Regions from separate parts of the Homo sapiens genome. Here region 1 is reported to be linked to region 2. Evidence: microRNA targets listed by miRTarBase, many of them from high-throughput screens and not tested one by one. Region 2 holds a microRNA gene; the other region holds the end of a gene's coding sequence.

Region 1 (3,504 bases), not on the chromosome of region 2:
AGAGGACACTGAGGGCGCAGCCTCCCAGGCAGGGCAGGGTACAGAGAGCTGCGCATGGCCTTTTCTGCTCCACCTGAGGGAAGAAAGGTGGGCTCAGCCTGGGTGCTGAAGACCATGAGCGCCCAGGGCCAGGTGGGGCCCTGCACAGTTCTGACCATTGAGTTTGGTGTCGCCCGCAGGGTCAGCCACAACAACAAGGTGAATCTCATGACCAGCGAGAACCTCTCCATCTGCTTCTGGCCCACCTTGATGAGACCTGATTTCAGCACTATGGACGCCCTCACAGCCACGCGCACCTACCAGACAATCATTGAACTCTTTATCCAGCAGTGCCCCTTCTTCTTCTACAATCGGCCCATCACCGAGCCCCCCGGCGCCAGGCCCAGCTCCCCCTCTGCCGTGGCTTCCACCGTCCCCTTCCTCACTTCCACGCCTGTCACAAGTCAGCCGTCGCCCCCACAGTCGCCTCCACCCACCCCCCAGTCCCCAATGCAGCCACTGCTTCCCTCCCAGCTTCAAGCCGAACACACGCTGTGAGCCACCAAGACCTGGGGCGACAGGAGAACCGGTCCTCTCTCTGACGGGGTGGCATTTGGCCTTGAACAAAACCAAGTCCACTGGGGACAGAGGCAGGGGCAAGTGGCTCTCCCCATTACCTTCTCAAGACCTCAGTGGGAGCACCAGCCAATGGTACCATCGGCTGGGCTGCCAGGTACCCTGGGCCTGGCGCTGCAGACCTGAGCTGGCTTGGACCCATTTGAGGACTGAACTAGGCAGGCAATGGCTCCAGTGCCCTCCCTCTGTTCCCTGGACCACCACCCCACGTAGCTGCTCACACCAGCCTCCGGGTGCCTCCCTCTGCTTGTACAGAGCCCATGGTCGGGACAGTGCCCTGGCCTTTGCCGGGGAGGAGGATGCTCTGAGATTCAGGGTGGGGCTGGCAACCCCTGAAGAGAACACTTCCTGTTGGTCTGTCTCTTCCCACCTTCCATCTGCACACACCCCCAAGGTAAGGGTACAGCCCGGCTGGCGGCCTCCTTGGGAACGTGTAGGCCACGGCTCTGCCACCACTAGGTACCTGCTGAGGGCGCTGGCTCTGCAGATCAGAACAACGGAGGATAGCTTTGTGCCTGGACCCAGAGAGTGTGGGACTCCCCGCTTCATCCCCACCGTCCCACTCCACAGCCTTCCCGAAACATTCCCTGGCAAACAAAGGAACACTAGGAGAAAAAATGGAAAAACCCTTCCAGTAATTAAAAAGGAAGAAACCACAGAAAGAAAACTACAGACCTCAAGATTCCACTCTGTGCCCGCCTCTGCCGGGAGGGAGGGAGGCACACAGGTGGAGCTGACCCTCGTCTTTGTGGCAGCAAAACCAGGATGCCTGGAGCTGTGGCCTGAGGGCCTGCTGGGGTCCCACTCACCCACTTAGGTCTAGTCGCTAGATCCCCCGTTTTCCCAAGAAGAGGGTTCGAGCCCTTGGTGGGGACAGCTGGGGAGATGGCAGTGCAGGCTGGAACCTGGGCTGCCCCAGAACACAGTCCATTACGATAGAAACACTAATTGAGCATGTGCGTGGGGTGGGGGTGTGTGTGCACATGTGAGTGTGAGTGTGTGTGGGCGCTTGGTGGGGGGTTGGGGACAGCTGGAAGGTGCCAGGTGCACTTGGGGTTGGGGTTGGTGTGTTGGGTGTTGAAGTGGAATCGTTTCATCCCAGCCATGGAGGCCACCAGCAGGAGTGTTCATGGGGATGTGGGCGAGGTGGGGCACTTTGAAGGAATGGCGGTCTGCTGGTGCCCTCGAAGGGGCATCCTTCCTGGTCTTCGCTGACCCAGAGGCGCTGTGCCTGCATATCATCCACCACCACCCTAGCCCAGCCTTCCCACTGCCCCAGGAAAAGCTCTTCTCCTGGCCACCTCTGCCCCCCAGCACCTCAAACTTGCATGGCTGGGCTGTGGCCTCTGCGGCCAGGAAGCCTGACACTAGGCACCCCCCAGGCGAGAGCTAGTGGGGTGCAGAGGGCCCCATGCCAGACAGCCCTTGGGGCTCGTTGCACTTTAAGAAATAGGATCTGTGGTGTATTCCAGGGGGCCTGATGGACACCTTTCCCGGGCGTCTGCAGCTGCCCTGCCCGTGCCCGCCTGCAGTGGTTGGAGACGGGAGTGGCCCTTCGGCTCCCGAGCTCCCTCTGGGGACGGCTGGCTCACTGTCTCCAGTTCTCAATGGCCAACGAAGGTGCTTGGAAACACCTAACCTTGCAAGTTTTACCGCCTTTTGAGGAACACAAATCGGAGAACAAACCCAGGGTTCAGGCGTGTTTTCTGTGAATGTTGGATGATGAATTTTTGTCTCTTCTGGTGGAGCTGTGCCTGGCCCTGTAGGCCCAGGGTTGGCTGGAAGGTGACATCTGTGTTTCGTTTTAGCTGAGGTTGGCAGAAACGTTCCCAAACTCCCCCAGCCCTGGACCCCAGCAGATGAGGAAACGGCCCCATTTACTGACCCCGCCCCCTTTTCGAGGTTATGCTCACCTGGTCAGCTCCTCACGTAATTGGGGGTGGAGGGAAAGCATGGTGGTGCCCTGGGCCGTCCCTGTGTGAACGCAGGCAAAAGCAGCCCAGTCCCCCTCACTGCTTGAGCTAACACTGCCACCTCTTTTGTGTGAGCACAAAAGCCACGTCCCAAGCCACCTGGCCCGATTCCACAGATGTATGTGCGGCCAGTGACTTCCCCAGGAGTGTGGAGGGGGTGGTGAGGAGGAGCACCTGGGCTCTCTACCCCTCTCCTCACAGAAGTACCTGAAACTAGGTCTGGGGCACTCCCAATGCAGCGCCTTGTCAGCCAAGGTGGGCAGGCAGGGACTGTGGCAGCTTATGTCCAAAGGGAGCCCCCATGCACAGGAAGCCACAGGGTTCCTCTTGTTTCCCCCGCTAACTTCAGCCTCTCATCTGCTGCTCCGGGCTGAGGGACTAGAGGACATCTCGGTCGTTTGAGGGGCATGGCCAGTCGTGGCAGGCCGGCCTTCAGCGTCCGGTCAGGGAAGCGTGCAGCCCAAATGGGCACTTGCATGGGAGCCACAGAGGAGCGTCCCTGGGGATTGTTGGGACCATGCTGCCCCCACTCCCGCTTTTGTTGGGGCTCTAAGTTCTGGAAGGTGTGTGCACAGAGGGTGCTCATGGGACTCGCATGCAGCTCTCAGCACTGGGTGGGAGGGCGTTGGCTTGTCCAGAATGGGGACGTGGGGCAGCCACCCCTGCCCAGCGAGAGCGCAGACACCGTGTGAGGGGACAGCAGCCCTTGGTGCAAAGCCAGAGACTGATCCTGGCTCTGACGGCTGAAGAGGGAAGACCCAAGGCTGGGTGGCGTGGCTCGTGAATCCACTTAGAATTCTTGGCTTGTGTCGCATACTGGGTGTCACGGCACACATTTACTCTGCATTGTCCCCGTCTTTCCCATCGCCTAGCGTTTGGGGAGGAACAGGGAGAGAGCTTCGGGGCGTCTGTCTCC
Region 2 (3,000 bases):
CCAAGGACTCATCTGATGGTTCTAGGCTGCTCTGGAATATTCAGGTCCATGTTAGGTCCACAGAGAGTGGCCCGAGCTCTGGACCACAGCCTGGTGTAGAGTTTCCATTGGGAGAGGCCACAAAGGGCAGGGCAGGGCAGGCCAGGGCTGGGCTGGGGCAGACACCCTTGCTCTAGCACGGCCCTCTGGTTAGGGCAGGCACCTGTGCCATGTGCCTGGCGCTGTGGGCCAGGAGGCCATGTTTTGCCCTGGCCCGTGGAGGGAGCCACAGCTTACCTCACTAAAGGGGCCACCAGAGGGAGGAATGGGCTGAGAGTCTGTCTCCGGGAGGGGGTTCTGGAAGAGAGAGAATGAGTGGGGCCTCCAACCTGTCCCGCATCCACCCCTTCCAAGGGACCCTGCCACTAGGAATGCCGGGAGTGGCCCCCTCACCTCCACCACGTTGGTGGGGGCTGCGTGCCCTTCCCCAGGCTGTGCAGCCGGCTCCGTCAGGGGCACGGGCGCAGATGGCGTGGGGCTCTTGCGAGCCTCCTCCTGCTTCTTCTCCCAGTAGTTCCGGTTGAGATACCGTGCGAGCTGCAGGCAATGAGGGGGTCACTCCCAAGGCCAGAAACCGTGAGAGGATGCACCCCATGCTGGGCCTTACCTCAGGGTCGATGTCCTCAGCCAGAGGCGCCGACGAGTTCTGGGGAGAAAAGGGCATCTGAGTCTCACAGGTGACAGAGCCAGTTGCTTCGGCAGGGACAGGGATGTCCCCAGTGCGACAGATCCTGGAGACCAGAGCCGCAGCCTGGGCCCTCCCTCCGTGCCCTCCTCTGGTTCCTGGCATCTGAGCAGCCATCTTTTCTCCTCTTCCAGATGCTTAGAACTCCACAGAGGCTGACAGCACTGCCGTCCTACAAGGCTCCTAACCTTGCTATGGGAGGAACAGGGTGGCACTGGGCCAGCCCTGGGGCCTCAAGGTGGACACTGGACAGCCCCCACGGTCCAGCGTGTGGGGCCCCAGCCGACAGCCCGGAAGGAAGGGAAGAAGGGAAGGGGTGGCTCACTGGGGCAGGGCTGTTCTGCACCCCTGGGCCTGCAGCGGCCTGGCCACTCCACGGAACCTACAAAATGACTTTCTCAACCTGCTGTCCCCGACCCAACCCCCTGCAAAACAGGCTGCCTCTTCACCCTCTACTGAGAGCGGGGCTGAGGCCAGGGAGAGGTGACGTGGATGCCCCAGAAAGCAAGTCCTTCAGTTCCTGTGGGGCGGGAGGGGTGTGGAAGAGACGGGGTCTCACCAGCAAGGCGCCTCCCCCACAGCCTGTCCCATGTCCTCAGTCCCAAGGGCCGAACCAGGGACCAGGAGCAACGGGTGCCTGGAGCCGTGGGGCTCTGCCCTGATGTCCGCCCGTGTGCTGGGGCTGTCCTCTCTGGGAAGCCCGGGGACCCGCATCCCCCACCAACCTGACTAAATCAGCTCAGGGACCCGCGTCCCCCATCAACCCTACTGCCTTCCAGGAGAGGGAGCTCCAGCCCAAGGGCCGCTCACCACAGGTGAAGAGTACAGGCTGCTGGCGGGGGGCGCTGAGGAGGCCGAGGGCATGGGCTCCGCCTTGGGGTACGAAGTGTACGTGGACTTCTGTCTCTGAGGCAGAATCAGAAGGGGCGTCACTTGGGTGCACGTGACGCCCCTCCGGCCCCACCGCAGCACATCCAGGGGAGCTGGGCCCCTCCTGAGGCCGCCCCGCCCCACCCGGCTTACCAGCCTCTCCTTCTCCTCCGCCTCTGACTGTGACAGCGCCAGGGCCAGCTGCAGCTCCTCCTCCTCCTGCAGGGCCGTCTCGTCCCTCTTGGGGGGCAGCTGAGGACAAGCGGGGAGGGTGAGGGGGGGCGCCGGGGAAGAGGTGCCCACGGGACGGAGGGGGCTGAGTACCTGGGACTGCTGAGACAGGGGGCTGGTCAGGTACTCGGGGGGCAGCTCAGTGGTGGAAGTGGCCTTTCCCTCCGCTTTCCTGTGGGCACAAGGAATGCTGCAGGTCACCATGCGCTGACACCGCCCTGCCCCCGCCAAAGCTCTCAACCACACCTCTGCGGGCTCCTCTAAGTGTCCCCACAGAGTGAGGACAGTGGTTCCACAGCCACAGGTGTCCGAATGGCCACACTCCAGAGCAGAGCAGGGCAGGACTCGAGGGCATCACACCAGCCACAAGGGCTCGGGTGAGTCCCTCAGGGTAAGCCCCAGTTCCTCTCCTGAAAATGGACATTCAGGACACCAGCCCGGCCTGCGAAGACCTTCCTACGGCACTCGGGAAACCAAACACAGCACCGCCACTGTGGGACGGGCCCCACCCAAGAAGGGGCAAACAGGTCAGTGACTGTCATGCCCAGTAAGCTCTTCCGGGGCGCCCCAGGCAGTCCAAGGGCCGCAGGCTCACAGCATGGTCGCAATTTCCAACCACGCACGCTGACCTTTGACCTGGGGCTCTTTTCTTTTTTTTTTATTTGAGATAGAGTCTTGCTCTGTCGCCCAGGCTGGAATGCAGTGGCGCCATCTTGGCTCACTGCAATCTCCGCCTCTCAGGTTCAAGTGATTTTCCTGCCTCAGCCTCCCGAGTAGCTGGGACTACAGGCATCTGCCACCAAGCCCGCTAATTTTTGTATAAAATACAAAAATTTTAAGTATAAAATACTTAAAAAGTAGAGACGGGATTTCACCATGTTGGCCAGGATTGTCTTGATCTCTTGGCCTCGTGATCTGCCCGCCTCAGCCTCCCAAAGTGCTGGGATTACAGGCATGAGCCACCGTGCTCGGCCGACCTGGGGCTCTTTCCTAAGAGAAAAGTCCACACCGAGGCAGACCTGCACAGCCCCCAGCACAGGGAAACGGCAGCAAGTGTGTGTGAAGGCAGGAATGGCGCTGGGATGCCCTGCCATGGAGCCGCTGGCTCACAGCAGACTCACGCTTGTGGGCAGTGGCTGCGACGGACGGGACTTGACGTGGCTCAAGGCAAGTTC

What was found. The annotated mature microRNA hsa-miR-6786-3p reads UGACGCCCCUUCUGAUUCUGCCU and lies in region 2 at 1,634-1,656, opposite strand. An mRNA with a match to its seed (bases 2 to 7 or 8) in the 3' UTR can be bound and repressed. Matches are read on the target gene's strand: a 7mer-m8 pairs with bases 2 to 8, a 7mer-A1 pairs with bases 2 to 7 and ends in A, and an 8mer does both.
Region 1: the mRNA of ARHGAP35 is a reported target of hsa-miR-6786-3p. Seed matches in the 3' UTR shown: 7mer-m8 at 2,111-2,117 and 7mer-m8 at 3,491-3,497.

The regions. Positions count from the first base shown.
Region 1 is chr19:47,000,152-47,003,655 of GRCh38, forward strand. It overlaps ARHGAP35 (Rho GTPase activating protein 35), which reads left to right. Exons shown (of 7, transcript NM_004491.5): 7 at 180-3,504. The coding sequence ends at 537. Among named protein-coding and RNA genes, the nearest start is that of NPAS1, 18 kb to the right of the region's middle. RefSeq lists enhancers at 2,310-3,055, 3,056-3,504.
Region 2 is chr17:81,692,500-81,695,499 of GRCh38, reverse strand. It overlaps MIR6786 (microRNA 6786), which reads right to left and starts at 1,743; the gene lies at 1,631-1,743. It overlaps HGS (hepatocyte growth factor-regulated tyrosine kinase substrate), which reads right to left. Exons shown (of 22, transcript NM_004712.5): 9 at 1,919-1,997; 10 at 1,748-1,846; 11 at 1,535-1,630; 12 at 647-685; 13 at 433-576; 14 at 277-336. RefSeq lists a silencer at 2,639-2,824.